Regions from separate parts of the Homo sapiens genome. Here region 2 is linked to region 1. The links come from fine-mapping of genetic effects on gene expression. A gene starts in region 1. The other region holds a variant in brackets. All regions are shown on one strand. Distances are between the middles of the regions. Region 1 holds the start of C5orf34 (chromosome 5 open reading frame 34). Region 2 overlaps C5orf34-AS1 (C5orf34 antisense RNA 1).

Region 1 (2,500 bases):
TTTGAATGATGAAAAATAAGTAAACTGCTCCTCTTGAATTTGCAATTTGAATTAATGGTGTCTCATTGTTAGCAGCCAATATTCTAAAACTTGACTTTCCACTCCATGCCCCTGTAACAAGTCCTGTTGATTTTCTGTCTTTGGAACCTGACTCTCTCTACCTCTTTCTCTTTTTCAGGCCATAGACTCTCCAACTCCTGCAACTGTCTGGAATTTCTTCTCTCTCCAATCCATCTCTAGTATTGATGACATAGGTAACTTTCCACAAGTCACACCATACCAAGTGCTTTACATCACCTGTTTACGTACTTATCAAATGGCAATATAGATTACAGATATATATATAAACACACACGTATATATCGGGTATGTCTACTTGGTATTTTAGGGGAAAAAACGGGTGCTGATACATAGATGGAAGACATTTTCTGATTCCAATTTGGGAAAAATAGTCTATCTTTGGTCAGGTCTTTTTTTTAATAGCTTTACTGAGGCGGTTTTCTAATTTTAAATAATCAAGCATACACAACAAACAGTGTAATGACTAAGGTTCTTGGCATACCATAGGAAACCATAACCCGGCTCCAACCCACACTGCCATTCTCATCTCTACAGTCTCATTCCCGCTTGCGTTCTCATCACCCAGCACATTACGTCAGGGTATGTTTAACACTCAAAAATCCACAAGTCTGTTCTTGACATGAATGAGAATCTCATTTCTTTCAAAATGCTATAGTCTCTAGTTACAGAAGGAGCCTGATCAAAACAACCACCAAAAGTCTTCCACTCACAGCAGTTCGGAGCCGAAAAGTTGCGGAAATGAGGCCCAGCAACGGTCCCTGGCTTTGATTTGCCAAAATGCTCTGGAAGCCGCAGCGTCGGCGCCTGCCCACCACTGCTTCTTCAGGGGTTTCTTCAGTTTGACAAATTACCAGCGAGTGATATTTCTTGGTGAAAGAAAAAAATCACAACCCTAGAGGAATAAGGTGGCAGGGAGAGTGTTTTGGCCAAGATGCCCGCCACGAAACAGGAAAGCGGAGACAGCGCCAACTGTAACCACTAAGAGAAAGCGCAAACCGCACAAGACCAGTTCAAAACCAGCGCCCTCAGGGAGCCGCTTCAGAGCTCCGCAACAGGGAAGACAGGAAGTCCCGCCCCTCCACAACAGGAAGGGCCGGAAGTCCCGCCCCTCCACTCCGGAGGCTGCCCTCGCTGCGTTCCCTACGAAGGGCGGAGCAGGAATTGGTGTAGGAAGGGGACGGGTGTTTCCTTGTTCGGAATGGGGTTGGCTCCTCTTTGATTTTTTACTTCTGGTGACCCACGCAAAAGCAGTCCCGACCTGGTTGTATTAATAATAAAGGCTGTAAGGATCAGCCTTTTGAACGGTCCAGCCGAGAACTAACCACAGAGCGCGTTTTAGTGGAGTGGTACTTATTTTTAAATAAGGTAAAAAACGATTATACTTCAGTAAAGCTGTTTAGAAAAAAAAAAACTTGGCCAAAGATGGAGAACTCTTCCTAATTTGGTATCAGAAAATAGGTCGTCTATGTATCTGCACCTTTTTTCCTTATAAAGTGGCAAATAAATGTGTCTGCTATATTTATTGCCACTAAACAAGTGTTTATGGAACACTCACTGTGTGTTTAGGCATAGTGGGGATAAAGCAGGGAAGGTGGCCCAGTTCTTTGCGGGTGAGGATCAGAGCTAGAGATTAACTGGAAAGAAAGAATAAACAATCATTTATTACAGTTGTGAGTGTTTCTAAGATAAAATACAGAGGTTTGTGAGAGCATAGAGAGGCATACCTTGTTTTATTGTGCATTTTATTGTGCTTTGCAGATACTGAGTTTACTACAAATGGAAGGTTTGAGGCAACCTTGATGGAGCAAGTGTATGGGTGCCATGTTTTTCCAACATCATGTGCTCACTTTGTGTCTCTGACATATTTTGGTAATTCCCACAATATTTCAAACTTTTTCATTATTTTTGTATCTGTTAGAGTGATCTGTGTGATCACTGATCTTTGATGTCACTACTGTAATTGTTTTGGGGGACCACAGATCATGCTCATACATTATAAAATGGCGAACTGAATCTGTTACAGGTAGTTAGGCATGAGCAAGGCAGGAGAGGGCTCTCCCCTGCCACCCACCCACTAGAAATGTTGGGTGATGGTTCAGCAATTATCACATGGCCTCTCTAAAAATGAAAATTTGGCAGCGCCAGGGAAAGGCCATTTCCTGATGGCCCACACCTGTTAACATCAAAATGTTAATTGAATGCAGGCCCCAGAGAGAAGCAACTTCCTGGGCATGCCGGTTAAGAGACAAAAGTGATGAAGTATGATTTTTCTGATACACTCCACCGGAAAAAGGAAGAAAGCCTCAGATGGGCATGTGTATAAATCCATAAAATCACTGTGTGTGCTCACTTCCCAAGGGTAAAGAGGGCTCTGAGCATGCAGGGAGCCCATCCTAAGATCATGGTTAAATGCGGCACT
Region 2 (2,500 bases), 30 kb before region 1:
GTCTTTTTAGTTTAGTTTTGTCAAACCTGAGGATTCGTTTTTCAGTTTAGCCGGAGCTGTGCCGCAAACGTAGCTGCCGACATCCCCACGACGCACCCAAGTGGTGGCCCGGAAGCTGGGGATAGAAAAGTGGCCTCCCCGAATGCCAGGCACACAGGCCTTACTACCAGAAGCTTGAGCTGGGAGCCTCGGCCGTCGCATCTCTAAGGTGCAGCGATACGGCCAACTTCCTTCCGCGAAGCCCTCAGGGTGGGCAACGGAGCTTTTCACCAGACTGAGGGACCGGGCGACCTGGCCGACCGGCGGCTCCTCACCGCCCCCTTGGGGATTTCTTGATAATTCTTTGCCACGATGCGGGCGGATGTTGTGGAGCTACTGTTTGTAGATCGCAGTAGCGTGACAGCACTTAATCATGACTACTAAATCCTCAGAAGTCGAAAAAGCAAGTCCATACAGAATAGTTTGACCCTAATTAAATTGCGCTTACAAGATACAGTTTGTTTACTGGGACTTTGGCTAGGTCCCATCCCGTCTCTGCCTCAGAGTGGTGGTTGCTCTTAGCACCAAGGAAATACCAGCTTGACATTTGACTCTAGGAAGCACAGGCCCAAAAGAAGAGGCCCAAGGAGGGACATTCTTCTTTCCCTTTCCTACCTACAGTTTCTCAAACCAAGTGTCAGATGGAAAGCAAGGGGTGGTATCATCGTAATTATACAGTTGACCATAGAAAATAAATTTCAATCTCAAAGTAAACTCCTAGGCCACCCCCAGAATCTTAGAGTTTCTCAATCATAGAACTCATTTCTTGTCACAGTCTTGGTTCTTAGCCAATGTAAAACACCCAACTGACAGGGAAAATTAAACACCTTTTAACTCCCACACACCTTAAATGAGAATTTAAAGTATCTTTCAGCAAATGTATTTATAATTTTGAGTGCTTTTAGCCATGTTAAGGACAAATTTTCTCCTTCTGAATGCAGTAATAATTTGGCATTACCCTTTTGGCAGTGTGGTACAAAGTCTTATAATCTAGGCTTTATGGAGCTATTGAGGAACAACATAGATGGCTTCATGCAAACCCAAACAATGTAATAGTAGTTCTTTTCTCTGTAGTCGGTCTACTGCCTGTAGATGTTTATTCCTTTTTTTTTTTTTTTTTTTTTTGAGACAGGGTCTCCCTCTGTCACCCAGGCTGGAGTGCAGTGGTGCAATCATAGCTCACTGCAGCCTTGACCTCCTGGGCTCAAGGGATTCTCCGGCCTCAGCCTCTGGAGTAGCTGGGACCACAGGCACATGCCATCGTGCAGGTAATTAAGTTTTTTGTAGAGATGGGCATCTCGCTATGTTGCCCAGGCTGGTGTTAAAGTCCTGGGCTCAAGTGTTCCCC[C/G]CTCCTTGGCTTCTCAAAGTGTTGGGATTACAGGCGTGAGCCACTGTGCCCAGCTTACTGATTCATTTATACAAACAGAGTGCTCTCAGTGTGCTACAGAATGACTATGGAGCTCAAGTTCTAGTGGAGGGTGTGAGCCACAAGGAAACAAGCTAGACAGATTGTAATAAGTACTATAAAGGAAGTAAATAGGGTGATGTAATAGACTTGGGAGATGCTAACTTTAGTCAGGTAGTAAGGAAGGCCCTTTTGAGGAAATGGTACTTGTTTGAGAATTGAAATGTGAAGGAATCCAGTGTCAGAGGAACTAAAAAAAAAAAAAGGCATTGTGCCCCTTTAACTTAGTGACATTATCATTCCTGATCTACACTCTTCTCCCCATTTTTCTCGTTTTCTCTGTTACTGCTTCCCGTTTATTTGAAGAGCCAGGTCTTTTATAGAAATCAGAAAATTAGAACATTTCTGGTTGTGTTTGGTGTAATCTTGACGTCATTATAGATATTTGGTTTTGTTCTTTCTTAATAGACAAGCTTATAATAAATAGCACTTTTGGTGAGCTCATTTCTGTTAAACACTTTGCAGCATAAATCTTTTCCTGTGTTCAAAAGAAAGTATCTGGTTCATGAGACAGTTTAGATACAGTCTTTGCCAAAGTGCCTGATTTTTAGTTTACAATGTTGCTTGTCTCCGTTTTTGTTTTTGAGATGTAGTTCTTGTCTCATAGCTCTACTGAAAAATACTTGGAGTAAAGGGACCAAATAGCAAGTGAACAAATGCACAATTCTGCATATTAAAAAAAAAGAGGCTGGGTGCAGTGGCTCACACCTGTAATTCCAGCATTTTGGGAAACGGAGGCAGGAGGATAGCTTGAAGCCAGGAGTTCAAGACCAGCCTGGGCAAGATAGGGAGATTCCTGTCTCTACAAAAAAAATTTTTAAAAATTAGCCAGGCATGGTGGTACATGTCTGTGGTTCCAGCTACTCAGAAGGCTGAGGTGGGAAGATCCCTTGAGCCCACAAGTTCAAGGCTGCAGTGAGCTATGATTGCACCACTGCATTGCAGCCTGGGTGACAAAGCAAGACCGTATCTCAAACAGTAAAAACAAACAAAATG

What was found.
Region 2: its variant is fine-mapped to the expression of C5orf34 in whole blood (INTERVAL, PIP 0.96).

The regions. Positions count from the first base shown.
Region 1 is chr5:43,514,015-43,516,514 of GRCh38, forward strand. C5orf34 (chromosome 5 open reading frame 34) reads right to left here and starts at 1,134. Exons shown (of 13, transcript NM_198566.4): 1 at 792-1,134. LOC124900190 (a long non-coding RNA gene) reads left to right here. Exons shown (of 3, transcript XR_007058764.1): 2 at 179-2,500. RefSeq lists an enhancer at 742-901.
Region 2 is chr5:43,484,094-43,486,593 of GRCh38, forward strand. The region is part of intron 1 of C5orf34-AS1 (C5orf34 antisense RNA 1); the gene reads left to right. It also overlaps a transcript of TMEM267 not described here. Among named protein-coding and RNA genes, the nearest start is that of C5orf34-AS1, 1.4 kb to the left of the region's middle. RefSeq lists enhancers at 1-646, 1-101. The variant C/G (reference allele first, on the strand shown) is at 1,388.